Linked DNA regions of Homo sapiens: region 1 is linked to region 2. Evidence: fine-mapped expression QTL. A gene starts in region 2. The other region holds a variant in brackets. All regions are shown on one strand. Distances are between the middles of the regions.

Region 1 (16,596 bases), 720 kb before region 2:
ACTGGACCTAACTTCATTAGTGAAATTGGAAGAAACCTGAAACTGTGACATAGAACAGGAAATGGGGGGGGGAATTCTCAAACATTTCAGAGTCATAAAGAGAGATATGAGGTATTGCTTTCATTACGCAGGGAAGCAATAAAGTGATGCTGCAGTGGAACAGTGTGTTTTGACAGCCTCAACATAGTTAAGTGGACTCAATCCATCTCATACATCCCAGTATAACTTTCCTTTTGTTCTTTCAGATCAGAACTGCCTTTTCTTAAGCCTTGGTATTTCAGGTGGTAAAATGTGAAATGGATTTTTGAAGGCAAAATGTTTATTTGGTTTATCACTTGTTTATGTCCTTGAATTTTCTTGTAAGAGCAGAGTCTGAATACATGTAAACCACCAGGTGGTTTTCTGGCTTGGAAGAATGCAGAAAATGAATCTTTTATTTATTACATCATAAGAGTTCTCTGTATTTGGTATGAGTAATCATTGCAGCCAGTGCCCACTAGCCTTTTATTAAAAGTATAACTGTAAAAGAAGACTTTTCTTTTTTATTTCTTCTTTAATATTTGCTTTAGTCTTTGGACTAAAGAATCCTTGCCAATGGTCATTGACCCATTCGTAATAAGACTTAATAGAGTTTAAAGCCTTATCAAGAGCCTGGTCATCAAACATGCAATAATAACAATGCCATGTCCAGCACTGTTTTGGTGCAGAGTCATTGCTCAGCAATTGTTTGTAGGATAAAAAATACACCTTAATTCTATGAGGCTCAATCTAAGAGGTGATTATAATGATGTTTTCTGGGGTTGCTTTTGAGTTTAATGCTTTAAAAATTATGCATATTTTATATAAAGAAAATAGTGTGTGCAAAATTCTTTCCTAGGGAATGTCCCTGTCTCCTCTACAATGAGAGGAGAGCAAAACTGGAGCAGGTTTTAGCTTCAGCCAGAAAAAAAATTGGTTAGAGGCAATAAAGAAGCTCCCAGTGAAGTTTATTAAATCCTGGACTAAGCAACTGGTGACGGTGGTATTGCTGGTGAATCTCCTATAAAGAAAAGATCTTTCCTGGCTAACACGGTGCAACCCCGTCTCTACTAAAAATACAAAAAATTAGCCAGGCGTGGTGGTACATGCCTGTAATCTCAGCTACCCGGGAGGCTGAGGCAGGAGGATTGCTTGAACCCGGGAGGTGAAGTTTGCAGTGCGCTGAGATCACGCCACGGCACTCCAGCCTGGACGGGATGACAGAGCAAGACTCTGTCTCAAAAAAAAAAAAAAAAAAAAACACAAAAAACAAAACAGAAAGGATCTTATAAAATCACCAAAATTTCCTTCTTTGGGATGGTATAAATCAGATCTTGATCTTGATTGCAGGCAGGGATGAAAATAGATGGCTGTGAAGACCACCTGTCCCTTCCTAAAATGACATTTGTTCACTTCATTCTGGAAACCCCAGGCCTTTGGAGAAGTGTCAGTGCCAGGTCCCTGTGTTGGATGTGGAGGCAGAGCCCGCAGGTCATCTTTACTCCACTCTGTGATAGCTCTCATCCCTGGACATTCACCCTTTCTCAGGCAGCCCACCATTCTCACTCTTCTGTCCCTGAGTTCTCAGGGGAAGGCATGTTTCCTGTTGCCAGTATGTTGCTGCTTAAAGATTTTCCAGGATTTAAGTGTAATCCCCAAGGTGTTGTTAAACACACAGCACTAAGTGCAACACTGGAGGGAGGCAGTGGAATTTAAGTTTCCTCTGAGATGATCACTTTTATTAAAGGAGCTCTCTCACCCAAGGAAAGAAAAAGAGCGACAGTAAAGTACCAACTGTGGTTAAATAAGAGGTACCCGTATGGACTGCTTGCCAAGAATAGCTATAGAAATATCAGGAAATAATTTTGGGCACAAGAGGAACAGGCCAAATAATTAAAAGCACAGATTTGTGATGCCACATTTATTAGGATTCTTTGGGGCCCTTATTCTGTAGAACTCTTGGTTTGAAATCTGTACATGTTACATCATTTCAGGAACATGGAGGAGCTAACATGTAGATTAAAATGCCTGATACGTTGTCAGGCATTATAACAAGGAATAATATGTAGGGACTGGGGTGAAATGGCAGAGTTATGGGAGCAATGTATGGAGAGGAGTTCATATTTCATTAAAATAAGTTTCTAGATGTTTGAGGTGGATGGAGTGAGCCTCCAAATGATCCTAGCTGGGATGAGAACTCAAATATAAAGATAGACAAAAAACTTAAGATTCTTTGAATTGAAGGATGAGGAGTTCCAATAGAAGTGACATGAACTCATCAAAAAATCTTGGAAAAGCAGGACTAGTAGACACCCTCCTTCAAATGGAGATGAAGCAAGTTGCAGTAACATCAAAAGTTAATGTTAAGCATTGAGTTTCCAAGTCCAGGGAGCGATAATAGAGATAACTTCTTAAAGAGGTATAGATAAATTCATGGTTGGTAGGTTCATGAAAACTATTTAAAGGAAATATTGATGTCTGTGATTAGTCATAAACCTTTTGATTGATATCAGGGAGGACGGTCTTTGTCTGTCTGAACCATACACTTATTGCCATAGTTGTAGGCTTTTTAAAAAAATTCATAATAGTTTTCTTTTCACTTTGGCTGATGAACTCTTAAATTAGGCTTTACAACCCATCTCAGATTGCCTTTGCAAAACTATCTGGCCTCCTTATTTCCTGAATAGTTGTCCACTCTTCCTTTTCTCTGCTGCCTTGTCATGTACAGCTCTCTATGATGGTATGCATACTGCAGTCTGATTGTTTGTTTACTTCTTGCCTCACTCTCTTGCTTGACTGTGGGGCCCCATCTGCCATCGGTGTTGAGCATGTTCTAAAAAGGAAGTCCAGTTTTCAAGCTAAGTGGCTAAAAATCTTTTTTTTGAGACAGAGTCTTGCCCTATTGCCCAGGCTGGAGTGCAATGGCACAATCTCGGCTCACTGCAACCCCTGCTTCCTGGGTTCAAGTGATTCTCCTTTCATAGCCTCCTGAATAGCTGGGATTACAGGCATGTACCACCACGCCTGGCTAATTTTTTGTGTCTTTAGTAGAGATGGGCTTTCACCATGTTGGCCAGGCTGGTCTTGAACTGACCTCGTGATCCACCTGCCTCGGCCTCCCAAAGTGCTGGGATTTCAGGGGTGAGCCACTGCGCCTGCCCAAAATTCTCTTTTAAAATTCAGTTTTCCAGCCATTTTTGATCCAATGCAGTGCTTATATTTTCTGTTGAGTGAAATAATTATCTAAGGCAATCAGTTTGTTTTTACTGTTTTTTAAAGAAAAAAACAATACCTCAATGATTTATTTAGGGTTTCTGCAAAATATTCCAAATGATTGCTCAGATTGTCCCCTTCTCCCTATATCCTTTAAAAATATTCCTTCAGAATCCAGGAATTTTGAATTATGTCACCCTCTTTTCCTAAACTCTAGGTGCTTCCCATTATCAGTAAAGTCAAACTCTTCAGCAAGACACTCACAACTCCCCTGATGTGGCACCCACTAACTTCATGCCTTCTTTGCCACCACATCCCCTGGTGTCACTGTTCCAGGCATGTCAAATCACTGAGTCCCTTTTTGTTCTCTTGCCTTTCTTATTTCATTATCATCTGCCTGGGCTTTCTTCCTCCATCTTCCCTTATAGCTAAGTGCAAGTGTTATCTCATCTGTCCCCCATATCCATCCACTCTTAAGGTGATTGTATCTCTAGTTAGCATTTATTTTAAAAATGCTTATATGTCTTCTTGTCCACCAGACTAAGTTCATTGAGCCTTTGAAATCCCTAGCACAGTGCCTGGCACCAAGTTGATGTACAATACATTGATGGTCTTTGATCGATTGGCTCTAAGGCAGTCTTCAAAGATGTATGACCAAATTCCAAATACTGAGAAGAAGAGGTTAACAATATTAGGTTGTAAACAGACTGAATATCTTCCTATTTCATTTCCCTGCAAGAGTGAAGGTGAAACAGATGGAAATGTCTGTATTTAAAGGATGTTTCCATAAATTATTCTGTGTAAAAGACACCTAGGAGCCCACTCAGTCATGAAAACTCAGGCCATTCTGCCTTTGTTTTCATTGATTTTTCAGTTATCCTGTCACAGCCAGGCACAAAATAATGCTAACTAGATGAGGCTTATCTAAGGACACCTTATTAAGAAACTAAAAAAGGACCTTAGAATGTGTAAAGGCAATGCAGAAGCCTTAGGAAGGGGAGAGAAAACGTATTAAGTGTTTTTCAGAAGAGGTAGTTGAAACAGTCCTGAAGCACCTGAGAAAAAGTTATAGAGCATTATTTATCTTCCAAGATGGCACAGCATCTTGAATCTGCCTTCCACTATCAATATTAAAGTTACTCTTTCAGTAAGGAGGTCCTTAGTACCTCTTGTGTGTCAGTACCCTGGCAGGGGCTGGGGAAATCAACACCATCTCTGTCTCCAGGGCACTTGCAGTCTGAGGAGGCAGGTGTGTGGTTATCACACAGTAGGATGAGTTCAGTGATAAGAGAGAGGCAAAGAGCAAAAGGGGCCGTGCACACCTCTGACTGGGTGGGTCTGAGAAGGATTCATACAGACACTTGATTTAATCTTGGTAGATGAGTAGGTGTTCACTGAGTTTACCTGTGGAAGGCATTCCCAGTGAAGGAAACAGCCCATGCAAAGGCATCGTAGAATGAAACCTCAGGTGATGTAGAGAGAAAGCTTCAGGTTACCTCATTTTCCAGTGCATAAACGTTGTGATGTAAGCCCTTCCCCTGGGGGTTGCTGCAACTGGAGTATGACTATGGATCTAAGTGTGGCTTACCCTTATGTCTTTGGAAGCACTGAACTGCTTTGCTTCCCTTTTTTTTTTTTTTTTTTTGGAGGAGTCACCTACTCCTAATCAAGATTAGAACTTTCTTAGATGTTCCCATTCTTACTAACTAGCATTCTTATTAGCAGAAGTGAACAGATAGGGCTTGGGCTGACAAATGGAGGGGCTGACTTGCTTGTTGAGAATCTTCTCTAATGTTTCCTGAGCAAACCCAGCCAGTGGGCAGTGGCAGGGGATGCTGCAGCTGTGTGTGGTTTGTCTACTTGAGACCCATTCTGGCCCTGTTTAAGGAAGTTCTGTTAATTGCTTCAGTTCCCCAGGTGCTCTATCCAGTTCAATAGCTCTGCAGCCTTGGGGGATATCCTGGGGAGCTTCTGATCAGTGGCAGTGGCTGGGATCTTTGAACCTGCTGTTCAGCTGTAACTTTGGCAAAATATAGACCGTTTGAGCAGGGAGAGTTGGCATGTAGAATTAGAATTTTCCACTGGAATAGTCCAAACAGAGGTAGGCAAGAGAGAGAAGAGAGAAAAAGGGCTGGACTCTTAAAAATTAGTGCACTGCCTCATTGCTGTGTCTCATTTTCTCTTTTCTCCCAAATATCCCTTCCCTAGGTGCAGCAAATCAGTGCCACATCCAGTCAATTATGAAAAGCCAAAAAGGTCTTTTGTCTTTTTCTCTGCACATTTGGATAAAACATCTTTGTTTATGACTGCGTAACATCATTTCACCTGGATTTAACAACAGTAATCTGTCATATCTGGAATTAATTTTGATTCATGGCCAAGTGCCCTTATAAATCTACTGATGAATTTTCCTGATGTTTTGAGTGAGTAAGCTCATTGTTGGGCTGGGCACGTGCTCATTGGCTGCAGCTGTGAATTCCATACCCAGTACATCCTGTAAATCTGGCGTAATCTGTAAAATAAATGGCGAGCCAGATTCTCAGACTAGCAGAGCTAGAAGTGACAGGGCCACTGCATATAATCTTGCAATCTGGGCACTGGAAAACTCTAGGGGGAGCCATTGACACATTTTATGATGTAAATGGTGCCCACTAGGGTTAATTAAACCACAATCTTCTCTTTCTCAGAGTCTAAGAGTTCTCGGGCCAACTTTTCAGTCACGTATTTCCTCACTTTTATTTTTTCTGTTTTTCATCCATTCCTGAGGCCAGCTGAGGTTTTTACATGTTTGTACTTGGTTGCTGGCATGGCATAGTATTGTATTTGTCAGGGTAGACTAGGTTGCATGCACTGCAGTAACCAACTGCCTCAGCATCTCAGAGGCTTATGTAACAAAGGTTTATTTCTTGCTTAGTCTTCATGCCCATTATTAGGGCTGTGCATTGCTCCAAGTCATCCTCAGATCCAGGCGGATTTTTTCCTCATAGAGGACAGGGTGAACCACACACTTTCTTTTAAGGCTTCTGTTTGCATTCCATTGGTTAAAGTAGTTCACATGGCTATGTTAGCTTGAAAGAAGGGCAAGGAAACATAACCTTATATGACCCAAAGGATGGGCCCCAGATCACCTGTGAACAGCTCTAATGACGGCCACAGGTGTAGTGGAGAGGAATAGTGAAATCATGGATTTTGAGCTTAGTCAGAAGTTCAAATCCTGGTTCTGCTTCTCCCTGGATGTTTAGTAACTTGCAAGCAAGTTGTGTAATCTCTCTGTGCCCCAGTTTCCTTACCTGTGTAAGAGAAGTTACTAGTATTTTCTCATGGATGATGGTGATATGCCAGTTTTGTAGTAAGGGACCCTCAAAATTTCTTTTGTGTCTCTCTGCCCGCTCTCCACCTAGGGTCCCCCATAGTGCCTACACTTTGTATCAGTCTGCTTAATAAGGGGAGATACTGTCCCTGTCTCCCAGCCAACAAACAAGAAAGCCCTGGTGACATTTGCCAAAGCTCATGAAAATAGCTATTAGGAAGGCAAACTGTGCTTAGAATAATATTAATTGGACTTTAAGCTCATTAGGAATTAAAAACAGCAACAAAATTTTCACCTCTAGCATAAGGGGAAAAAAATCCTTGAGAGCCACATAGCTCCCCACTAAAATGCATAGCTGCTGACCGTCTGTAAATGCCCAGAGGATTCTCTTTGCCTGGCTACAGAGGTTCAGGATAACATAGCAGATGCGAATGACTTCAGGATACCTTTCATGCTTGGCAGGCGTCCCCATTTTATTTATGATATCAAAGCTGCTATGCTGTGTTCTCTTCTGCTGAAGACATAAAAGAGATTCAGAAGTCATCCAAATCATCTTGTAATTAATGTTACCATGCACGCCCAGGACATTAAAATGTTAACAGTGTTAGAATCGTGTGCTTTGGAATACCGAGTGAGGGCTTTATTAGAGAGAAATGCTCAGCAGATGTCATCCACCCTAATTGAGGACATCAGGGTGCCTGCTGCTTGTTCTTATCAGTGGTGCAGAGTGTTTTTTTTTTAATTTATTCATTTTCTTTACTGCTAGAATCTGCTCTCATTATTAGACTATCTTGTCACTCATTTGCATTTCAAGTGCTGGGACTGGGGGGGAGCAGCTATCTGCCTTAGAAGAACACTTCAAGGGTTACTCTATCAAATAGCAGCACTGTAGCACAGTGATTCTGACATCTGGGTTATCTTATTCCCAGATGCTCTGTGGTGTCATTAGCAGGATTAATCTTAGCTTTAATTTCATAATGATTCTTATTCTAATATATGTGAATGAACACAAAGTCTCTTGACTCATTATCACCAATTTACCCAAGATATGTAATCAGGCTCTTACATTCACCAACATTTATTTTTGCTAATACATCTAAAATTGTAGATTAAGCAAATATAGTTAGTTCCAGCTGAGTGAATGCCTACCGAGGTAGCACTGTAGTATTTATGTTTTAATTAAAGTACATTAATGGCGTTGTTTTTTAAATATGTACTGACCAGAAATGTGTTCACGGGGAATAGTAAAGTCGTTGTTCAAGCAGGGTCCAGCTGTAAAATTAGTCACAGCAGCATTACATTAGAAGCCACTACCCACTTCTTTTTCAAATTATTGAAATTCCCTTTGCTAATTAGGTTTTTAACCTTTATAAACAAGATGGAGATACACAGCCTTAATTCCAAACAACTCTGCTCCCCTAAGGAAACAGAACGGCAAGTCCTTAATGGTGAGTGTAATTGCGATAAGCCTTGTTGTTTTCATTCCCATTCAAGGTTAACTTGTCACATCAAATATTGTCACTTTTAGTTTATGATCCAGGGTTGGCAACAAACCATTTCCCCTATCATTTGACACTGAGTGTGGTCATGTACTAGTGGGAGTGAGGGGGTGGGAGAAGAGATGGTGATGCAATAGCAAATTCCAAATTCTTCCTTGTT[A/T]ACTTCAACACTGGACTCACTTTTTTCATTTGCCAGATGTTGTCGCCCAGCAGCATGTAGTGCTTTATTATTGATGGATAAAATGTTCAAACATTTAAAGAAATGAAAGTCAGCTTTGCATTTTTAATTAATTAATTAAAAGTACTGTAAATGCCAGCTTGTTAATTGCTTTGCACCTGCAAGCCAACACAGGTTTTGTGCACTCTTTCTTTGAATATTAAATTTTTTCTCGCATGTCTTTGTAATGCTTGGGAAGTCTCTCCAGCAAACATATTAGTAAAGAGTAAATATTGAATCTTAGACAAAACTCATGGCTTCATCTTTCACTGTACCCAGAATAGGATTTAAAGGAGGATTTAGATTTCCAAGGCTTCTAATTAAGTAGTGATAATCAGGCTTTCTGCTGAGGGTCACTTCCTGGGAGTAATTTGAGTTATTAAAATGCATGTTTTTGTTTGTTCTGCTTTGCGAGCTAAAACCGATCCCTTTTAATATAGCAGCAAATATGCAAATTGGTGTTTCATTATATTGTGCAATTTATGGCAATCTTCTCTAATTTATTGAAAGGTCAGGAGCCTGACCTTGTCATTCAAATTTTTTTTTCTGGTAAAGCTAAACTAATTATGTGGATTTTAAAAAAATTTATGAAACTCTGAAAGTGTGCAGCATGGTAAAGAATGTGACAAATTTAACTTTCATTTAGCTTTCATATTCATCAAGACGGCCTTCGGTTTTATTTGGATCCTAGCAGGGAAGAATAGGTGATTTAGGAATCAGTTGGTTTTAAGTACTGAAAAAAGAAGGTAAAAAAATTCTTCTATCTCAGAAAAACATGGCAGCCAGAATAGCTTAGCCTTACTGAAATAATTAATGTGTACATGCTTTAAATTGACATTGGCCAGAAAATATTAAAAAGAATGATCACAGGCTCAACAGCTATGTATCTTTGCTCTGTAAAGAAATGAAAGAAATGGGGAAATATAAAATCAGTGCAAAGATAAAAGTCTCATCAAACAACAAAAAAAGAACAAACACAATTGAACACAAGATCAGGGATACAGCGGTTAGAAAATCACCCAAAATAAAATAAAAAAGAAGAAATAAAAATGAATAAGGAGTTTTATTGTTTATGGTCTTTGATCCATTCTGAAGTAATGTTTGTATATGGTGTTAGGTAAAGATACAACTTCATTCTTTTGCATGTGATATCCAATTTATCCAGCACCATTTGTTGAAAAACCTGTCCTTTCCCTATTGAATGGTTCCTGGCACCATGTCAAAAATCATTTGACCATATATATGAGGGTTTATTTCTGGGCTTTCTATTCTATCTCATTGGTCTATATGTCAGTCTTCATGCCATCACCACACTGTTTTCATTACTACAGCTTTGTAGTAAGTTTTGAAATCAAGAAGTGTGAGTCCTCTGGCTTTGTTCTCCTTTTTTAAGATTGTTTTAAATATTTACAGTCCCTTGAGATTCCATATGAAATTTGGGATGAGTTTTGCTATTTCTGCAAAGAAGTTCATTGCTATTTTGATAGAGATTGCATTAAATATATAGATCATTTTAGGTAGTATCGATATCTTAACAATTTTAAGACTTCCGATCCACGAACATGGGATGTGTTTCCATTTATTTACGTCTTTTTAAATTTTTTTCAGCATTGTTTTGTAGTTGTCATTGTACAAATCGTTTACCTCCTTGGTTAAGTCAATTCTTAAGTATTTTATTCTTTTTGATGTTATTGTAAATTGGATTGTTTTTGTAATTTCCTTTCCAGATTATTCATTGTTGGTGTATATAAATGCAAATGATTGTTGTGCATTAACTTTGTATCCTGCTACTTTGCTGAGTTCACTTACTAGTTCTGTATATTTTTTGTGGAATTTTTAGGGTTTATCTACATATAAGATCATATCATCTACAAACAGAGATAATGTTAATTCTTCCTTTCCAATTTTGATGCCTTTTATTTCTTTTTCTTGTCTAACTCCTCTGGCTAGGATTTCCAGTACTGTGTTGAATAGTACTGGAGTTGTGAAAGTGAGTGTCCTTGGTAAAACTCTTAGAAGAAAACATAGGGCAAAATCTTCACAACACTGCATTTGGCAATGATTTCTTGAATGTAACACCAAAGGCACAGATAACAAAAGAAAAAATAGACAAATTAGAATTCATGAAAATTTAAAAAATTTTGTGCATCAAAAGACACTATTGATGAGGTAAAAAAAGCAACCCATAGGCTGGGTGCAGTGGCTCACTCCTGTAATCCCAGCATTTTGGGAGGCTGAGGCGGATGGATCACCTGAGGTCAGGAGTTTGAGACCAGCCTGACCAATATGGTGAAACCCTGTCTCTACTAAAAATATAAAATATTAGTCGGGTGTGGTGGCATGTGCCTGTAGTCCCAGCTACTCAGGAAGCTGAGACAGGAGAATCACTTGAACCTGGGAGGCAGAGGTTGCAGTGAGCTGAGGTTGTGCCATTGCACTTCAGCCTGGGTGACAGAGTGAGACTCCGTGTCAAAAAAAAAAAAAAAAAAAAAAGGAACCCACAGAACAGGAGAAAATATTTGCAAATCATATATCTGATAAGGCATTAACATCTGGAATCTGGAATATATAGGGAACTCCTAAACTCAACAACAACAACAACAACAACAGCAACAAAAAACAAGCAGGTTCAAACACAGGCAAAGGACTTGAATAGACATTTTTCTAAAGAATATATAAAAATGGCCAATCAGCACATAAAAATATGCTGAGCATCACTAAGCATTAGGGAAATGCAAGTAAAAATCACAATGAGTTACTACCTGACATCCATTATGATGGTGCTATGTGCTAAAAGCAGAAAATGAACTTGGTGAGATTGTGGAAAAATTATAATTCTTCTGCTCCATTAATGGAAATATAAAATAGTACAGCTACTATGGAAAACAGCATGACAGTTCCTAAAAAAAATTAAAAATAAAATCATCATGATACCCAAAATAATTGAAAGTAGGGTCTTGAAGAGATATTTGTACACCCATATTTATATCAGCATGGGTCACAATAGCTAAAACAGGGAAGCAACCTGTGTCTATTTATGGATGAATAGAGAAGAAAAATATGATATATCATGGAATATTATTATTCAGCATTAAAATGGAAGGAAATTCTGACACATGCTGTATTAGTCCATTCTCACACTGCTAATAAAGACATACCCAAGACTGGGTAATTTATAAAGGAAAGAGGTTTAATTGACTCAGAGTTCCACATGGCTGGGGAGGCCTCACAATCATGGTGGAAGGTAAATGAGAAGCAAAGTCAAGTCTTACGTGGCAGCAGGCAAAACAGCTTGAATCAGGGAACTCTCCTTTATAAAACCATCAGATCTAATGAGACTTATTCACTATCACAAGAACAGCATGGGATAGACCCGCCCCCATGATTCAATTGCCTCCCACCAGGTCCCTCCCACAACACATGGGAATTATGGGAGCTACAATTCAAGATGAGATTGGGGTGGGGACACAGACAAATCATATCATTCTGCCCTGGCCCCTCCCAAATCTCATGTCCTTGCATTTCAAAATCAATTATGCCTTTCCAACAGTCCCCCAAAGTCTTAATTCATTTCAGCATTAACTCAGAAGTCCATAGCCCAAAGTCTGATCTGAGACAAGGCAAGTTCCTTCCACCTATGAGCCTGTAAAATGAAAAGCAAGTTGCTTCCTAGATACAACGGGAGTACAGGCATTGTGTAAATACAGCCGTACCAAATGGGAGAGAACGGCCAAAATGAAGGGGGTACCGGCCCCATGCACGTCCAAAATTCAGTGGGGCAGTCAAATCTTAAAGCTTCGAAATGATCTTCTTTGACTCCAGGTCTCAGATCCAGGTCACACTGATTCAAGAGGTGGGGTCCCACTGTCTTGGGCAGCATCTCCCCTGTAGCTTTGCAGGGTACAGCTCCTCTCCTGGCTACTTTCATGGGCTGGTGTTGGGTGCCTGAGGCTTTTCCAAGTGCATGGTGCAAACTGTCAATGGATCTACCATTCTGGGGTCTGGAGGACGGTGGCCCTCTTCTCACAGCTCCACTAGGCTGTGCCCCAGTGGAGACTCTGTGTGGGGAATCCAACCCCACATTTCCCTTCCACACTGCCTTAGCAGAGGTTCTTCATGAAGGCCTCGCCCCTGCAGCAAACTTCTGCCTGGACTTCCAGGTATTTCCATACATCCTCTGAAATCTAGGTGGAGGTTCCCAAACCTCCATTTTTGACTTCTGTGCACCCACAGGACCAACACCATGTGTAAGCCACCAAGGCTTGGGGCTTGAACCCTCTGAAGCAATGGGCTGAGCTGTATGTTGGTCCCTTTTAGCCATGGCTGGAGATGAAACAGCTGGGATGTAGGGCACTATGTTTGGAGGCTGCATAAACAGGGGGGCCCTGGGTTCAGCCCACAAAACCATTTTTTCCTCCTAAGCCTCTGGGCCTGTGCTGGGAGGGGCTGCAGTGAAGGTCTCTGACATGCCCTGGAGACATTTTCCCTATTGTCTTGGTGATTAGCATTTGGCTCTTTGGTTACTTATGCAAATTTATGCAGCTGGCTTGATTTTCTCCCCAGATACTGGGGTTTTCTTTTCTACTGCATTGCCAGGCTGCAAATTTTCCAAGCTTTTATGGTCTTTCACCTCTTGAATGCTTTGCCACTTAGAAATTTTTTCTACCAGATAACCCATATCATCTCCCTCAAAGTTCCACAGATATCTAGGGCAGGGGCAAAATGCCACCAATCTCTTTGTATAGCAAGAGTGACCTTTACTCTGGTTCCCAACAAGTTCCTCATCTCTATCTGAGACCACCTCAGCCTGGACCTTATTTTCCATATGACTATCAGCATTTTGGTCAAAGTCATTCAACAAGTCTCTAGGAAGTTCCAAACTTTCCCACATCTTCCTGTCTTCTGAGATCTCCAAGTCTCTAGGAAGTTCCAAATGTTCCTACATTTTCCTCTCTTCTTCTGAGCCCTCCAAACTGTTCCAACCTCTGCCTGTTACCCAGTTCCAAAGTTGCTTCCAAATTTTGGGGTGTCTTTACAGCAGTGCCCCACTACCTGGTACCAATTTACTGTATTAGTCCATTCTCATGCTGCTAATAAAGACATGGGTAATTGATAAAGGAAAGAGATTTAATTGATTCACAGTTCCACGTGGCTGGGGAGGCCTCATGAGGAGCAAAGTCACATCTTACATGGAAGCAGGCAGGAGAGCTTGTGTAGGGGAACTCCCCTTTATAAACCATCAGATCTCATGAGACTCATTCACTATAATCAGAACAGCATGGGAAAGACCCACCACCCCATGATTCAATTACCTCCCACCAGGTCCCTCCCTCAACACGTGGAAATTGTGGGAGCTACAATTATTCAAGATAAGATTTGGGTGGGGTCAGGGACAAACCATATCACATGCAGTAATATGGATGAATCTTGAGGATACTGTGCTAGATGGAGCCAGATATGAAAGAACGTATATTACATAATTCAATTTATATGAGGTACTTAAGAATAGTAAAAATCACAGAGACAGAAAGGAGAATGGTGATTGAAGCAACTGAGGTCAGGGAGCATGAAGAGTTATTGTTTAATGTGTATAGAGTTTTAGTTTTATAAGATGAAAAAGAGTTATGGAAATGGATTGTGGTGACGGTTGCACATTATTAATGTATGTATTTAATACTACTGAATCATATACTTAAAATGGTTAAGAGAGTCACTTTTATGTTTTGTATATATTGCCACAATAAAAAATTAAAAAAATAAAAGAAAAAGAAACAGTGACAGATAAAAATGACAGATAGGAATATCTAACATGTATGCAATTGATTTTTATAAAGAATAAAATAGCACTAATGAAAACATAAAATACTTACAGATAATATTGGAAACAGGCCAGGCACAGTGGCTCATGCCTGTAATCCCAGCACTTTGGGAGGCCTGGGGGAGCAGATCACTTGAGGTCAGGAGTTCAAGCATAGCCTGGCCAACATGGTGAAGTCCCAGCTCTACCAAAAAAATCCAAAAAAAAAAAAAAAGAGTTGGCTATGGTGGTGCATGCCTGTAGTCCCAGCCAGTCAGGAGGCTGAGGCAGAACTGCTTGAACCTGGGAGGTGCAGATTGCAGTGAGCCGAGATCGCACCACTATACTCCAGCCTGGGTGACTGGGTGACTGGGTGACAGAGCGAGACTCCCTCTCAAAAAAAAAAAAAAAAATATATATATATATATATATATATATATATATTTTTTTTTTTCATATATATATACACACACATATATGAACATATATGTATATATGTTCATATATATATACATATATATATATATATATATGAAACTTTCCTGCAAAAAAGACTTGACTCTTTGACTTGGCTCTTGAAGATGGCAAGAGCACACTGTGACCCAGAAAAAGCCTATCATGATCAAGCCACATTATGACATAGTTTGGTGGCTTACTTAGTATTATTGAAAAAGATGGAATCCCTTGGCCTCCAGGTAGAAAAAGCATGGCAGAAAGGGAAAGTTCCTATCTGCAAGAAAAAAGTAAGGAGTGAAGGCAAGTTCACCTGGCCTCATCTGTGTGTTTGTGTAATTTGAAGTTGTCTTATTGGTAGAGTCTGGATTTTCACAGCTCCTTCATGGCCAGCAGAGCATGAGAGGAAGTGAGGGCAGAGCAAAGAGCAGGAGCTGGGATGATCACTAGCCCAAGGGAAAAACAGAATTCAGAAATCTGCTATTTTTTTTTTAACAAAGACATTTATTTTGGAGAAAGGATTGATTGTAGATTTTGAAACTATTTTTATGATGTTTTCTCCTCTTGGTGCCAGCAAAAAATGCAACTTTTCTAAGACTTTGAAAAGTTATTAGTAAACTGCCTGACATTCCTTCCTGATATCCTTATAGGTGTAAATATTTACAGAACTGGGAATGATCCTAATCCAAATCCATAAAATTGAATAACTTTTTTTCCAGTTTCTGATCAACATTAAATACATTAAGTGTACTCAGAATCAATGTTTGATTGTGATTAATGTTGATTTTATTAATCTTTAGGAAATAGATGATTTGTTTACAGATCACTGGTTTTAATAAGAAAAATAAATTCATCCTCCTAAGTCTCTGCATTCTAGTTTTTAACTTTGAGTTCTGCTTCTTCACTCTGGTTGTTTTGAGTGCTTTGTAGCATTATCTTACAGTTAATACCTTAAAATACATTTGTTCCATCAAGGGATGCAAAGCCTCATTTCCCTTTTATTTATTTATTTATTTATTTATTTATTTATTTTTGAGTCAGAATCTCGCTCTTTCTCCCAGGCTGGAGTGCAGAGGTGTGATCTTGGCTTGCCGCAACCTCTGCCTCCTGGGTTCAAGTGATTCTCCTGCCTCAGCCTCTCTATTAGCTGGGATTACAGGTGCCCACCACCACACCCAGCTAATTTGTGTAGTTTTTTTGTTTTGTTTTGTTTTGTTTTGAGATGGTGTCTGATTCTGTTGCCCAGGCTGGAGTGCAGTGGTGTGATCCCGGCTCACTGCAAACTCTGCCTCCCAGGTTCAGGCGATTCTCCTGCCTCAGCCTCCTGAGTAGCTGGGATTACAGGTGCCTACCACCACACCCAGCTAATTTTTGTTTTTTAGTAGAGGCGGGGTTGCACCATGTTGTCTAGGCTGGTCTCCAACTCCTGACTTCAAGTGATCCACCTGCCCTGGCCTCCCAAAGTGTGGGGATTACAGGCATGAGCCACTGCGCCCAGCCTCATATCTCTTTTAGATGTCTCTTTTTGAAGCTTTTCCCATTTCTCCTAGAATTCTTGCCTTGATGTCATATTCTATTAATGAGTAAGAGGGGAGCTGGCATTTGGATGAATGCCAGTAATGCAATGAATTCTTTCATCCCTTTTCAGTCCTCCTTCAGATACTAAGTTATTCTTTTCCAATGTCTTTATCCTTTTAGGGTTTCCTTTAATGTTCTTATAACCAGAATTTTCATGGCGTGAAAATACTGATGGTATAAATTGGTGAAGGAAGAACATATGGCCAATGGCCATGCTGGCTGAGTTCCCATTAAGATCTACATAGATAATAAGAGAGATGTCTGAAATCCTGTGAAATATGACTTAAGCATTATCTGCCCACAAAGGTATTTTAATCTCTTAGAACTCAGCCTCACAATGCCTCTTAAGATGATGACCTTTGAGTGGTACTCCTGCTCTGCAGAGGTGAAGATGTTTCTGAACTGTTGTCATTAAGCTAATGACTTTGAGCTTAACTGACTGGAAGAATCTTTGACAAGTAATTTTAATGGAGAAGTCCATCTGCCAAGGGGTGGACCTTAAGTTAATCTC
Region 2 (16,596 bases):
ATAAATTAATTCCTAGTATCCAAAACTATTTCCTAGGTTTGTTTTTTAATTAAATCACTTCTAAACCCCAGGAGAGAACAGAATTTCACTATTATCAAATAAATAAAATCATCAACATTACTATTTTGCTGGCAGCATCCTCGCCCTTTGCCCCAACCCCTCTTGGTGTTACAATCCTAACTGCAAACTCCATACAACGATAAATGATCTGTACTTATGTCTTCCTGAAAACCAGTGGTTGGAACACACTTGATCTGTATTAATAATAGGAAGGGGGAAGGGGCTTTTAAAAGGGGCTATTTTATAAGTTGAAGCAAATTATAGGGCTTATTTAGCATCAGAATTACTTCTCACCTTGTACTGTCCCTGAATGCTGAGTGATCTCTCTTTTCCAAAGTTGTGGGTCTATCCTAGTTTTATTGTAGACAATCAATACTAAATATTAGGAATCTACAAACAAAACAAACAAAAAAGCTCCCCCCTACTCCACACTGCTGAGCCCTAAATTGCTTTTATGAAAATAACTTTAAAAAGACATTGGCCAGGTCTACTAACCCTTCCACCATCCTCATCTAGACCCTGATCACTTTACACATAAAGGAGTGAGTTTCTTCCTTCCTCAAATACAGCTTTCAGAGTGCCTTAAGATTAACTATCCTAAACCCCTACTTTGCCTTGGTAGTTCTGATTGCCTATAACAGCCCCAGCTTCTTTTTTTTTTTTTTTTTTTTTTTTTCTGAGACGGAGTTTCCCTCTTGTTTTCCAGACTGGAGTGCAATGGCACAATCTCGGCTCACCACAACCTCCACCTCCCAGGTTCAAGCAATTCTCCTGCCTCAGCCTCCCGAGTAGCTGGGATTACAGGCATGCACCACCACACCCGGCTAATTTTGTATTTTCTCCATGTTGAGGTTTCTCCATGTTGAGGCTGGTCTTGAACTCCTGACCTCAGGTGATCTGCCCATCTCAGCCTCCCAAAGTGCTAGGATTACAGGCGTGAGCCACCGCTCCCGGCCAGCCCCAGCTTCTTAAATTGGCTTTCAAGCCTCCTTCCTACCCTCCCCATAGGCATTAATTAGCTGTTCCTGGTTTGTTTTCCACTACTAGCCTACACAAGGCCAGACAGCTCTTCAGGCAGACAGCTCTCTCTTTGTCCGCTGAAAACATCATGTGAATTGTCTTTATTTTACTGAAGATGCCAGGCACCATGTTAGGCATTACAAATATTATCTTATTTAATCCCTTCCATTTAAGAGATGGGTATAATTATACCCATTTTAAGGCTGTAGAAGGCTAAAGAAGTTAAGGTACTTGTCCAACTAAGGTCTCACAGCAGCACTAGGATTCTTACATCTGGCTCAAAAGCTGGTATACTTTCCACTCCAGCATACTCTCCCCCCTGCTATGCATGTGCTGTGTGTTCTGATTCCTCCTTCCTCTTGTCATCTGGATGATTTCTCAATTTCACTCCATATATCTGACTCCTGTCCAGTCTGCAAATCCGGAGAGAAACTCCCACCTCTGTCTTGAAACCTTTCAACCATCATCCTAGTCCTTGGCAGACTGCTGAATTTGTCATCTGCAGCACTCATTTGGTGCTCCCATTTTCTGCCTTGTATTGTCAGCTTTATTTTTATTCAGTCCCTTCCAACCAAACTGAAAGCTCCTTGAAGATGGGAATTTGCCTTATATTTATTTATATTCCTCCCTGACTCCCCAGAGCCTAATATTACAACTCCCGTTTGTCATACACTCACCTCATGCACACTAATCCTTAGAAGTGAGCACTGTTATTACTGCCATTTCGCAGATAAAGAAACTGAGACTCAGAGAGATGAAGAAATTTGCCCAAGCCACTAAGCTGGTGAGCAGATCTGATGTTCAAACACATACTGCCTGAATCAAATGCCCCTTTTCCTTTGTGACTGTATTGTCCTGGCTCACATACATGGTCCCTCACACAATGTGAACTTATGAAGCATTCCTGTATGGAGGATACTCAACAAGCCTCCAGAAAACATCCCTCTAACATGACTTCAGAGAAGGGGCATTGTTTTTACTCTTCATGAGGTGAAATCCGGCAACTCAACAGAAGAAAGGATGAGTATATACCCACCTGAGGACACCCACATCCACTTCCCCCTCCTCTCTAGGAGCCATGCCTCATGTTGGTGGGAGCCAATGATGCTGTCTATATCTGTACAGGGGTTTCTGTGAGGTAGAGAGGCAAACTGCCCTTCCCCCTTAATCCTCTGTACCTTTTAAATACACAGAGGAAAGAAGGAGAAAATTAAACTGTTAATTTCTTTTAATGGTCTGCAGGGTCCAGAGAGGTGGGGTCCTGCTGTGTCTGCAAAAGAAATGAATTGCTGCTGTGGGAAGAATAACAACTGTTTTTAGAAAATGTTCATAGCTGACCGATTAAGCCAATCTGTAGAACTCAAGTCAGCTTCTTCTTCTCCTTTAAGGTATGAACATGGCAATGGGGATTAATGAAATCTCTAAGAAAAGAAGGACCATTGGGAGTACAATAATCAAGGCCTAGGAGTCTGGTCAATTTTCTCCACAAAGAAAGTTTGTCCTTTCAGTGCCACTGCTGCAGAATTGAGCTTGATAGTATAAAGGGGGCTATCTTAAGGTTACTTTATACACAACAGGTCTTCAGGAAGTGTAAAAACAAAATCTCTTGCAATGGCAACAGGGTACTTCCTATGAATCTGAAAAAGGAGTAATGACTATACTATCCATTTGTCTCTGGTATCCACGCTAAAACTATTCTATTCTCCCAAGTTCCCACAGGTGGGTTTCTAGCTTTCTTTATATTTTGGTTCATATATTTGGACAACTCCAGGGCTATAAGCATTACCTTCACCTATAAAACCTGCATTGTAGCACACAAAATCCTGCGCATGCACAGCAAGTGTTTCATTTACTTCATCTCAGATAAGGCACAAACTACCCTGCAAAGTAGACTAGTAGATATTACAATTATATACATTTTGCCTATGAGGAAAACTAAAATTTGCCTCAAGAAACATAATTGGGACATGATAAACCTAGTTCCCACTCCCAGTCCAGGACTCTTTCTACCACTTCTCAATTCTCATGGCAGTCCTCTACCTTTTCTGTACTCTGGATCCACATGTGAATTTTGGAATCTAAAGACAGGAACCTCTCTCTTTAAAAGAGATGGACTTCAAATTATACTCACCAGGCTTCTATTACAACTACCTGGACCATACTGAGAACTACCCTCTCCCCACTCCTGAAGCTACAAACACTATACACAAAATTTAATATTTAGACTCAAATTTTAAAATATTTGCACGAACTCTTAAATCTATAGAAGCTGAGCAGTCATGGCTGGGTGCGGTGGTTCATGCCTGTGATCCCAGCACTTTGGGAGGCTGAGACGGGAGTATCACTTGAGCTCAGGAGTTCAAGATCAGCCTGGGCAACATGGCAAAACCCTGTCTCTACCAAAAATACAAAAAATTAGCCAGGCGTGGTGGCACACAGCTGAGGTCCCAGCTACCTGGGGAGCCAAGGTAGGAGGATGACTTGAGTCTGGGAGGCGGAGGTTGCAGTGAGCTGAGATCATGCCACTGCAGCACTTCCCGCCTGGGTGACAGAGTGAGACCCTATCTCAAAACAACAACAACAACAACAACAACAACAAGATGGGTAGTCATGATGGTTAGGCTCCCCATTTAAAAAGGAAGGCTAAAATCACTGTTACTTGTTTTTCCACAAGTACTATTTATGGATAGTTTGCCAGATAACTGATACTCCCTTCAGATAACTGATACTCCCTTGTACCCCTAATTTTATTTTTTTCTTTTTTTTAGGTGGAGTCTCACTCTGTCACCCAGGGTGAAGTGCAGTGGGACGATCTGGGCTCACTGCAACCTCCACATCCTGGGTGCAAGTGATTCTCCTGCCTCAGCCTCCCGAGTAGCTGAGATCACAGACGTGTGTCACCATGCCCAGCTAATTTTTGTACTTTTAGTAGAGACGGGGTTTTACCATGTTGGCCAGGCTGGTCTCAAACTCCCGACTTTAGGTGATCCACCTGCCTCGGCCTCCCAGAGTGCTGGGATTACAGGCATGAACCACCACTCCTGGCATCTAACATACATTTTAAGAGTCATTCTGTCTACCTAATGGACAAGCAGTCCGGTGTCTTTCCCCAGAAAAGATCTAGAATTGGGTCTGTCCACCTTGTTCACTGACCTTTTTAATTAGGTGTGTAATCTTGGTATCCAGGGCCCAGCAGGTTTTCCCTTCCCCAATGTCTGGACAATACCCAAGTTCATCAAAGCAGAAACAGGACTCAGTTCCAGACCTTATACCTGGCTGAAAGAATGATATTCTTTTTGTCTCAGCTCAATCTTGGTTAATCTCCATATGCAATCTAACTCTGGAGTGAAAGAGAGGAATGACTCTACTTGTTGCTTTGGGACGACTGCCCTATTTCTTTGTCTGCTGGCTGACCTTCCCTATGTAAGAGCATCAGCATTTGCAACATTGGGTTTAAGCAGGAAAGCTCTTTCATCTTTGTCCATTGGCCTTGATCTCTCCTGATCAGTATGGTCTGGATTCTTGCTAATCACTAATGATCCCTTGGCCCTCTATATAATACTAAAGGTATTAGACTTGAACTGTTAGGAAAATTCCTACTCAGCTAATTACATTCTTTCTGCTTTTCTTGGTTTTCTGTATAGTCTCAGCTGGAGTTGAATTTGAATTATTTCCTCAAATTTTAAATTGCTGGTTTTTGGAAAGCAATGGTAAGTTGTTCCCTCAGATGAATACAACTAATTATAATTAAAAAGCCCCATGACTAACCTCTTTCTCCCCCATCCCACTCTTTTCCTTGGATGACTTTCCATACCATCTCCCACATTCTGGCCTTGAATATTATAATAAGAGCTTAGTTCACTGGGCTAGGAGTTTCATGATTCTGTATTTTGTAAAGCAGGTTGAATATTATTCACTTAAAACAATATGGTGGTTCCACTACACATATGCTTTTCAGTCTGTATTTATGATCAACTACTAAAAATGACAAGTGTTTGACCTCACAGGTTAGGCCTCACCCATAGGCTAGGAGAAGGGGAAGTTTTTTGTAATAGTCAAAGCCTTGCTCACCAAATAGAATACAAGTTATGTTTGATTTCTTAAATGAGTATGATTCTTTAATATTTCAAGGAATGTGGAATGCCAATCCTGTGGAATTATATAGGGCAACCCTAATTTTAGCCACGACATCTTGAATGTTTCCCACCCAATTCCATATTCTAGAACTTAGCTTTTTAAATCATACCAAAATTGTGCACTCAAAAAATTTAGAATCAACCAACCAAACTCTTGACAATATAACTTTTTGAAGTAATGTCTTTATCATGCATACCAATGCACTATACATGTATATGATTGTTAAGTTAGTAATTCATTGACAATCAAAGAGAATGTGTAGCACTTTTCTTAAGGCTGTCCTTTAGCAGCTACTCTTATTCCAGTGGTGCTGCCATATGTTAGTATGATGACTTTATAACTAGTTAAAAAGTCATTGAGGGAAGTCATCTAATTTTCTTTCAGCTTGTTTTGACCCCAAATTATATTATCCTGACTTGACCACCCACCTTATTCTTCAGAGCACTGAAGGATGCTAAAGGAAGATGGCTTGCCACCTCCAAGGCTCTTAAACCAGATGTGCTGTGGGTTCTGAAAGCAGTGCCCAACAAAGAGCTCCAGAAACGTTTTGAGCAATGGCAGCAATGGAAGCACCTACACAATAAGTGACAGCCTTCCAAGATGACTTGATAGATGAGAACACACTAAAATGTTTGTGTAAGTTCTGGTGTAGTTGTTAACATGCAGACATTAGTTAGACCTTGGTTATACCGTTTCAGCCCTCCAGCTGAGAGTTAGGGACAAAATTATTCCTAACATATTGTACTTCAAAAAATGGTACATCCTTTAGGTGCATCTTGCAGATTTCACACAAAATGTTTTAATATTTAGGATCTAGATATTGTTTTGAATGATTTCAAGCATTATCCAAGAAAGATGAAAACTATAACTGAGATAAACATATTGAGTATGTTTTTATATTTTTATTAAACCAATTAATTTTAACCAGGTGTATGTATGACTACTTGGGATGCATTTTGTTTACTTAATTGTAGACAATTCTGACTTAAGATTGGGGGGAAAAAAGGTACTGTATGTGGTCTTGATTTTAACTAGAAATATAGTGCTTTCAACTCAAATGAAACCAGCCCGTCCAGTATACCAAATAAGGAGCAAGACCTTTTAAGGATTATTTTGCTTTCTAAAGTAATTAAAAGAATATCCCCTTCAATCATGTATGCCCTTTAAACTTTGCTTAATGAGTTTTAAAGGAGAAAAAAAAAAAAACATGGTACTGTGTGGTACTGTGAATACGGCACAATCTGGAGAAAACTTTCTGATTCCTAATTTATTTTTTTCCCTTGACTTTCTACTTAAAGGTAATCAACACAATTTTCCATTTGTATCAAAGAAAGGCCACAGTTTTTAACTCTTTCATAATAATGTTCCTTGAGTTTCTTGGAGCAAGGAGAAAATATACATATTTTAGTTACATTTCAACAATTACTTATTAAAGGTCCATAGGGATCATGTTCAATGGCAAAGGGAAGTGGAGGACCTATAATAGATAATGAATAAATACTTATTGAATGGATGGATGGAGGAAAAGAAAACTGTATCTTGGGCCCCATATGGAGTTCACTATAAAATTAATTCCCACAGATTAGCCTCCCAAAGTATTTGGTCCATGTAAATACAACTTCTGGCTATCATATAATATTAAGCCTAAAGCATCTGCTTAAATTTGGACTTGATTTTTCCTATTATTCCAGTTTTAGAAAATGTTTGGTCACATAAATAGAGCTCTCTCACTAACTTACTTGGACTATTTGGTTACATAACATCTCTGTTCCTCAGTTTATGTCAGAATGGAAATAAGACAAAAACCTCCTCCTTCCTATAGGGACTTTTTTGAGTACCTTGATAAATACCTACAAAATGATAAATGCTACTACCTCTTTCAACATTTGCACGATGTTAACTAAACACAAAATATTTTTAGTGTGTGAATTAAAATGCCTCTTTTACTGATGGCTTCAGATGTTTCCTTGTAAGATACCATGTCAAGAACTGGTTTATAAATTATCTGTCCTTCCAGAACGCACTGACATCACGCTTCCTAATAGCTTGGTATGATGACTGCTGTCAAAATCGCCTGCATGGAACCATCCCTGACCTGGACTAACAGCATGTATTAGCGTGACAGAGACTAAAAAGCTAAGAACCGCCGTGCGATGGCCGGCTTTGGGCACCGGGGGTGGGGGCTACGCTACGCGTGAAGGGCCTCAGTCCTCGGGCTTTAGTTCAGGAAGAAAATGAAAGCTGGAGGTCTCGTGGGCGGGACTGGAGGCGGCCAGATAGGCAAGAACCCGCAACAGGAGTAGGGACATTTTTTCTTCAAATTCCAATCCCATCCAGCGATAGACAGGCGCGTGGGTCTCCCTCCTCCACGACCACCACACAATGGCACACACTTTTGCTGGAAACTGAAATCGAAGTCTCTGAGGCAGGCTGGGGCCCAGGCCGGCAGCGGGGAGGGGCAGGGTCCAGCCACCTCGGCGTGGCCTTGGCGAGCGCTCCGGGGTCAGAGGCCGTCGTTCTCGCCGCGCTCCACAGCGCGTCACCCGCTGCCCTAGCGACCCCCGGGCGACCCCGGCATCGCCTGGCTGCGCCGTCCCGGCGGGCCGGCCCTCTCCACGCCCTCTCCTGGGGTTTGCGGTGGGCACAGCTCCCTCCAGACTGGGTCTCTCCACTAGCCTCCTCCCCAACTGCAACGTGGGAACCAGAGCTATCCGAGTCACGAGCCCCAAGTGCACACAAAGCCCCCAACGGGGCCACGGCGCCTCCACGCCTCGCTACCTCCAGCTCCAGGAGCGCAGAACGCAGCGCCCTGGGTCACCGCGTCTGCCCTGCGGAGCAGCCCCACTGAGGGGAAGCCTCGGGCAGGAGGTGAGACCCCGCGCACGCAAGCACCCCCGCCCCAAGCAGGGCCCTCTGCCCGAGGGAGACTCTCACCTCAAATAAACGGGCGCTGCCGCCTCCAGGGGGAGGACAGCGGGCGGAGAATACTCACGCTGGGCCCAGCCGCGCGGGGACTTCGCTGGGAACCACGCGCGGGCTCCCGCCGGGGAGCGGAGCCCCAGCCTGCAGTCCTGCGCCCGCCCCAGCACCGCCTCCTCGGAAGGGAGGCCTCTACCGTCCGGCGGCGGACCTGCAGCCGCCGCGGGAGACGCTGCCCCGCCCCCCGGCCCCGCCCTTCGGCCCATCCCCGCCCCGCTGGCCTCCTTTTCCCCTGCCCCCTCCCTCCGCTCCTCAACGCCCGCCGGGTGCAATCTGCTCTCTCCGGGAGACGAACGCGAAGCGACGTGGAAACCCTTCCACCAAAATGAGCTGTGATATCCTTTTGATGGCTATAATTTATTCCAAATCGTCCCTGGACTGAAACGATCAATTAGCAGCCCGAAACGCACTGTGAAGTAAATTGTCACACTCTCTATTACAGGATGGTTATCATATATTTATAAGGTGTGTTTTCTGCAATCAGAACCAACAAGGTGTTGAGCGATCAGTCATAAACGCACTTCTTCAAAAAGAGAGGGAGAGAAGCTCAGCATTGTGTGGCGGGGGAATAATCCTCATGACAGTTCTCTCCCCACCCAGTGATGTTTTGTCTTGGCACCTGGGAAGTGCAGTGAGGGCTGGAGCTCTGGACGGACTCTCTTCGCCACGCGTGCCCCTGGAAGCAGGGTCCCTGTGAACTACGGAGAGACCCCAGAGGAGAGATTTCCTTATTGTGTAAACACAAATCAGTCGTAAGGGCCGCTCCCTCTGTCTTTCTCTGTCTTCTCTTGTATCCACGAAAATAATATCTTACTCTTTGCTTCTAAGCTTCTAATAGAATGTTTGCATCCTACACTTAATGATAAGTATTTTTTCTTCTTCCTCAGGTCTCAAGGTGTTGACCTCCTCTCTTGTTATTTAATTGATGATGTTCGGTAGAAATTATGTCTGGGTGATATGAAGTTTACCCACAGAGAGAACCCTGCTTTCTGAATTGAAATCCTCAGCAGAACTCTTCCATCATTCATAAATGAGATAGCCCAAAGTTCTAAGAAAGTAATAAGAAAGGGCGATTTAGGCCAGGCGCCGTGGCTCACGCCTGTAATCCCAGCACTTTGGGAGGCCAAGGCGGGCGGATCACTTGAGGTCAGGAGTTCAAGACCAGCCTGGTCAACATGGTGAAACCCCGTCTCTACTAAAAATATAAAAGAGTAGCCGGGCATGGTGGTGCATGCCTGTGATCCCAGATATTCGGGAGGCTGGGGCAGGAGAATCTCTTGAGCGGGGGAGATGGAGGTTGCAGTGAGCTGAGATCATGCCACTGCACTGCACTCCAGCCTGGGTGACAGAGTGAGACTCTGTCTCAAAAAAAAAAAAAAAAAAAAAAATACTGATTCAGCCTGGTAGCTATTTTGACTGGACCAGGCCATGGAGACATTGTTATTTTCCTTCTCAGTGGTCAGGAATATACATCTGGAACTTCTGAGTTTTTCCCCTTACAAACTTTCATCAGATAGTCATCCATGAACCACCTATCAATCATTTTTTAGAAGGGTTCTAGTTTGCATCCAAGTGATATTCCTTTTGCCTGAAAAACATAGCTTTAGAGCCTAGACTACTGGTTATTGATTGTGAAAAAAATTTAGCAGCTAGAATTATGCCTTTGTAGTAATAAAGTGACATTCATGCAGAGTGAATCACAAGGTGTGAAGGTAAGATGCAGAATTTATACCACATTCTTCTTAGGTTAAGTGCCCCCATGACTTTTGCATGGGAGGGCTTATCTGCAATGCCAACCCTTGAAGAATGGGGAGAAAGGAAATCTCGTTGGGTATTTGAGCTGTGGAGGCAGCTGTTGCCATTGGGCTTTCACCCCCATCCTCACAGCATAAATGAAGTACCACATTCCTCTGTCAGAAAGCAATGGGGATAGGGAACCTTGCTTCATCTGAGGACTGGCATAGCAAAGAGCCAGACCCAGCACCTTCACCTTGTGCCTTCCAATATTATTGATTTAATTTGCATTTAACAGCTAATATTTATTGAACATTTACTCCATGCCAGGCACTGAGCTTTAAACTACAGATGCACCTCAATTTATGATGGGATTGTCCTGATAAACCTATTGTAGTTTAAAAATATGTTAAGTTGAAAGTACATTTTTGACTTACAATATTTTCAATTTATGATGGGTTTATTTGAACATAACCCCATCATAAATGAAGGAACTTTTGTACCATCGTAAAGTTGTAAAGTAGAGAAATGCTAAGTCAAACCATTCTAAGTTGGGGACCATCTGTATGTGTATTATCTTATTTAATTATTTCAACAATCTTATTGGAGAAGGTTCTTTATTTTGCCAAAGAGAAAACTGAGACCTGGAAAGATTAAGTAATTTATGCAAGACCACCCTCCTAGTAAGTGATGACTTCAAATCCAAGTCAGTCTCCAATACCCACACTCTTCATCCCAATAATATAATACTTCAGAAATTTGAGATTTTGATTTAAGATTTTTTTCCACCAAAAAGATTTTAGTGGAGCTGATGATACAATGAGAGTGGTAAATTCTGGGAGACGATTGAAAGAACAGCTGTTTGCAATAGAAAGCCACATTGGGTACTTACACAGCCCCTCCCCACCTTGGTAGATTACCTCTTCTTTGTTCTATCCTTCCTACCCTTCGTGATTTCTTTTTCAGAGTTACACCTGCCATCTAGCAAAACAGACCTCACCCAAGGTCAATGATGGCTGCTAACCTTGGGGTTGATGGGGGAAGGTGGATGCAGCAGACCCCAGGGAAAACAGAGCACCGTGAGGAGGAGCCAGAGGAGGCCGGAGGCCCTTGTCTCAGACATCCAGCTCTGAGAGTGAAATGTTGCTTCCTAATGGACTTTAAATTACCAACATCGCTAAACTCTCTCTTAATAGACTTGTAAAGATTTGCTTGCTACCTTTTTCCTCCTTCATGTAGAATTTGTAATCAAGAGCCCAATTTTGTCATTTGGAAATACTAATTATCTAATCACGGCATGCTGTATAACGTACTTGTCTGCCCAATTAGCTAGGACAATTATTAAAATTCAGAGGCCTAATTATGTCTCAATTTAATGCTGGCAAACTTGCATACAGAGCAGTAATTAAAATCCTCTCTTTCCCTCTGCCTTTAGGGCAGGGGATGATTAGGCCCTGTCAGGGGGTGTACTGAACCAAACCAGTGAAGCGTATTGTGCAACATGACCCTGCATTGTTAAGTGTGTCAACATATTAACCTGAATTCCCTTCAGCCCCCACATAATCACATTTGGTGGAAGAATGAAGGAGCTAAAACATGAAGCATTTTTTTAAAAAAACATAAATTCATTTTAATTAATGCTGTGAGAGTTCTGGTGAATTTCACGTTTCCAAGTGCTGGAAGACGTAAGACTGGTTCATCTAATTACTAGCAAATTTGTTCTTGTAAAAACTACTTTTTTTACTCATTTAAATAAAATAATTTTTGGGGGTAGCATTAAAAAAAAAAAGCCCTAGTTAGCTTCCAGTAATACAGTTGATTACCAGCTTTGATGATGGAACACAAGTGAATGTTGACTTCCAAAAGATTCAAACCCAAGACTGGAGGCATTGAGGGGAAAAAATACTACAATTTAATACTTGAAAGATGTTAATAAAAGTCGAACATTACAAATCATAATATTGAAATAAATTCAAAATATTTATCTTTTGAGCTCTTAAGTTTGATGTCTGAAATTGAACCAGGGTGAGAAGACCAGAGCATTGCACAAATTCATGATGCTTTGCAAGCTCCAGATGGTGTGTGTCCACCTTGCCAGCATCTAAACCACCTTCTCTATGGAGTAAGGAGAGCCACAAAACCCATTAAGACTCCTGAGCTGTCCTCTAAGTTCTGGCTTTCACTCATGATGGTCTTTAGAGATTATTCATATATTCAGCTAAGGAAGGACAACATTTAGTCTAGACCAAAAATGAATTATTCTGGAGCAGAACTTCTTTCAATTGCTTCCCAACTTCTTGCTGTATGGATAGCTTCCACAGAGTAAGAGACACACAAATACACACTCATGCACACTCGCACAGTCCCTTACTTGGACAGAGCTTACTCTCATCTCAATTGATCTCTTTTTCTTTTATTTTTTTAGATGGAGTTTTGCTCTAGTTGCCCAGGCTGGAGTGCAGTGGTGTGATCTCGGCTCACTGCAACCTCCACCTCCTGGATTCAGGTGATTCTCCTGCCTCAGCCTCCCAAGTAGCTGGGATTACAGGTGCCCACCGCCACACCCGGCTAATTTTTTATATTTTTTGTAGAGACCCCGTTTCACCATGTTGGCCAAGCTGGTCTCAACCTCCTGACCTCAGGTGATCTGCCTGCCTGGGCCCCACAAAGTGCTGGGATTACAGGTGTGAGCCACCACGCCCTGCCAATTGATCTCATTTTTAATCTCATGATCACCTTGTAACACATGTAAGGCAAGCATGTCTCCATGTTAATATGGGGCAGTTAATATACTTGCCCGAGCTCACCACTCCATACTCTTACTTCTTGGTTGTAGGCAGGGTAAGACTAGACTCCGTTCCCCTTGCTGCCCACTGCATCAGACAGTTAGCTGTGGATCAGTCACCAATCAGGGAGGCTTAGTTTGGTTAAATATGTCATGTTGAGATCGAAGTATAGATAATGTTATAAACAATGAGACAACAAGGGGACAGCCTATGTACCAACACCAGAGGACCTCCTGTCCTCAGTCAATACTTACTTGCAACATGTTTAGCCATATTTGTTTAGATTTGATGCCTCTGGCCCATTTTCTTCCTCTTTAAGCTTTTATATTTCTCAAGTTTTATATAGTTTCATCTGGGCCAGTGATAGTAAAATTTGGGTTCCTTCCTCCTAATCTTGCTGTGGTACAATGTGGTGTGTTTAGGGACAATTCTGGCTGGTATATGCTCTCTTACTAACAAAGGCAGTGACTACAGCTATCTCTATAAGAGATGGTTGGCTGGAGCCAGGACAGGCCCTTAGGCACTTGTGCTACAAAACCCGGGGGTGGTAGTCCTCCCTCCACACCCGCCACTACCCCCCACCCCCACCTCCCAGGGAGTATGCCCTGTGTCTTGAAAATGGCCTTGCTCTGAGCCTCTTTGGATGGCAAACTGAAGTGCAAATCTGTGTTCTGACTTGTTCCCGTGGCTGTCAGCATGTTTTCCTCTTGTCAGCAGCAATTGACTGGTCAGGCTCACCCCTGTACAGCAATTGTAACAGCTCATTGACAGACTAGTGACCCAGCTGGACCTGATAATGGAAAACTATTGATTTTTGTGGGCTCCACGAATCTAAAATGAACGACCGATGTAATGTCATCAATTGTCTCGGACTCTGATAACCCAGGGGGAAAAAGTTTCAGGGATTGCTTGTATTTCCTGACAATAGTGTTCCAAAATCTCACTGAGCATATGTAAGAAGAAGCCCATTTCTTAGATGGGCTTTAAATGACCCCGATTAGTCCATCAGGGTTTCAACGCCGAGGCTTGCATGTTAAATGAAGTGGAAATTAGGATTATCAATTAGCAGAACTGAGACATAACGTACAATTTAGGAAAGATATTTGTGGAGAAGCACTTTGAGAGGAAAATGTTTAAAATGTTTATTATAAAACAAGCTCACAGGAAAAAAAAAAGAAGAAGCTGGGAGGAAACCAAAATATATAGGCTCTCCAAGAGCCTTGATGTATGAAATTGTGATAGAACTATGAGGCTGCTTTGGCTTGCCTGTGTTGATTTATTGGTAGTAGAAAGAAAGGCTTGAAAATAATGTAGAGATGCCTTAAACATGTGTTGCAGGAAATAGCTATTTAGTTTTGTTTTTTAAACAATTTTCTCCTTACTTGATCATTTAAAAATCCTCAAACATTGCTTAGTGTGTTTTTTAGAAACAACAGCATTTTTTTCTTGAGCCAAATTAGCAATGGGTTGGAGCTAATTTTGCCCAGTGGACAGGTCTAGAAAATTCTGTACTCTATGCTGAATTCTGATAGATAGGATTTCCCTTAATGGCCTCTGCCAAAGGGAACTTGATTAAAAAAAAAAAAAAAAAAAGGCAAGGCTATTGATCTTGGCTGCCAAACTGATACATTTAGTTCACAATCCACTTGTAGTGAGGACATAATCATCTTATGGTCCTGATCAAATTCAGACATTCTTAGAACACAGTTCTGAAGGCTAGACAAATCAGAGAACACAGAAATAACAGGGGTGCTTCCCCATCCATTTTATTTGCTCAAAGAGGGCTAGAAATCTCAGTAAGGGTCCAGAAAGAACAGGCCCCAGAGGAGATGAATCTATGTGTGGCTGGACTCCTGTTCACAGGATGCTGCCATCTTCACACTCTCCTGTCATGGTCCTTCTCTGGCCTTTGATTAGCATCGCCCCTTACAACACTACACCTCTGGTTTTCTAGCACTATCAAAACCAGCTTTGCCAATTGTTTGGCTGGCTACCTATTAGTAAAGACACACAAGGTTGAGGTTGAGACCTGAAAGAAAATTAGGCTAGGCAAAAAAAATTGGTATTTGGACTTTAATAAATAAAAAAGGCTTGATGCAGAGAACACAAAATTTGCCTGATGCTGTGTGATGTGTCTTATGGCCCAGCCAAGGCATCAACAGGTCAAAGGTCAGGAGTGAGGTCTTATATGTTTTGGAATTCTCTACAGTGGTTTTCATCAGGCCTTGCATGTCACAAATATATAAATAATCATTGAATAAAGGAGCAAAAAGGCTATTTTTAAGTATAGAAAGATGAAGGTAACATTTTCCAGTGTATAATAGATTTGGGAGAAAATATTTGCAATCAGGGTTTTCCATGTGCAGGCTCATGCCAGTCCATGAAGGAGTTCACCTGTCTGTGGTAAATATAAATAAATGAACAAAGGGAAGTTAACAGGATTTTATAAAGCAAAATTTAATCTTTTTAAAAGTCCGAGATTGGCTGAGCACGGTGGCTCATGCCTGTAATCCCAGCACTTTGGGAGGCCGAGGCGGGCAGGTCACCTGAGGTCATAAGTTGAAAACCAGCCTGGCCAACATGGTGAAACCCTGTCTCTACTAAAAATACAAAAATTAGCCGGCCGTGGTGGCATGTGCCTGTAATCCCAGCTACTCAGGAGGCTGAGGCCGGAGAATCACTTGAATCCGGGAGGCGGAGGTTGCAGTGAGCCAAAATCGTGCCACTGTACTCCAGCTTGGGTGACAAGAGCAAAACTCTGTCTCAAAAAAAAAAAAAAAATTCCAAGATTATAGTCTTTTGAGATGTTAAACATTTTCTTTTATAAATAATGATTATAATAAATTAATAGCTTTACTTGGCAAGGCAAGATTAAAAGTTGGCAAAAATCATACACTGGTCCAATACCTTAAAAATTACTTTTCTGTAGAAGCCAAAGAATGGGTGCACTAATCTAAATACCTATTGTGCCTCTTATTAATATTAAGGCAATCCCATATGACTGTCAACAAATAGAAATATTCATGATTAAGGCACAGCATTAGATGTGATAGGTGTAACAGCACTGGCCTAAGGTCTAGTCATTTGGAGCTTCTTTTAGGTTTTTGGTCTGTATTCTATCTTTACAAATTATTAAATTATTAAAAAATTTTAATTTTTAAACCCAAATCTGTGATTTGATTGAAATGCTGAAAGATGCGATATTAGTCACCATACTTTTAACTTCAAGATACTCTTTTCTGATAACACAATTCCTATCTTCTGCCCTATGCAATGTCAGGTCTGTTCCCAGCAGCAGTTCCACAGTAATGATGCCACTTGGAAGAGAAAACAATTTTGTTTCTTTGGGTTTTAATTTGATGTGTAAAGTCAAAATTTTAACTCAGAGTATGTGTTTTGCTGTGCTTTGTAACTTGCACTAAAGATTTAAATGTATTAAACACATTCCTTGCAATAACTAATCATAAAATTACAGTATTTATTAATAGAAGATTAATAACTCTGGACCCAGTTTCACCTCCACATTTAACATCTTCCTCTTGTATCTTTTGGAATGCTTTCAGCTGCAGGTAAAAGAGGAATGCTTTGTGTTACTTCACAAAGCAGGTCAGAGATCTTGTGGTTCTAGGATTGATTGATGCAGTATCTCAGCAACATAATCGAGGACCCAGGTTTTTTCCATATTTTTCACTGGCTATCTCAGCATGTTCACTTGTCCTGTTATACTCTCTTCCATCATGGAGAGCAATATGACCACACAGTTCCTGGTGTTCAATGTAGATAGTAATACTTAGCAGCAGGAAAAGGGGACATTCCTCTGTTGTGTCCCTTTTTAAGACTTAAGGAACACTTCCCCAAAAGCCCATTTTCTCACTTTCCC

Alleles and levels. Positions count from the first base shown, and alleles are read on the strand shown. Sizes are in standard deviations (SD) of each study's normalised expression.
With allele T in place of A in region 1, the expression in tibial nerve of the gene that starts at base 8,307 in region 2 is higher (small effect, 0.14 SD a copy in GTEx).

Evidence for each region.
Region 1: its variant is fine-mapped to the expression of LINC02609 in tibial nerve (GTEx, PIP above 0.99).

Annotation. Positions count from the first base shown.
Region 1 is chr1:90,127,374-90,143,969 of GRCh38, forward strand. No RefSeq gene overlaps it. Among named protein-coding and RNA genes, the nearest start is that of ZNF326, 140 kb to the left of the region's middle. RefSeq lists an enhancer at 4,893-5,394. The variant A/T (reference allele first, on the strand shown) is at 8,201.
Region 2 is chr1:90,843,332-90,859,927 of GRCh38, forward strand. LINC02609 (long intergenic non-protein coding RNA 2609) reads right to left here and starts at 8,307. Exons shown (of 3, transcript NR_135038.1): 1 at 8,152-8,307. It overlaps LINC02788 (long intergenic non-protein coding RNA 2788), which reads left to right. Exons shown (of 4, transcript NR_186594.1): 2 at 2,323-2,468; 3 at 4,725-4,790; 4 at 5,658-6,141. LINC01763 (long intergenic non-protein coding RNA 1763) reads left to right here and starts at 8,428. Exons shown (of 2, transcript NR_146610.1): 1 at 8,428-8,948; 2 at 10,897-11,568. RefSeq lists an enhancer at 7,352-7,852 and silencers at 7,636-7,755, 8,046-8,445.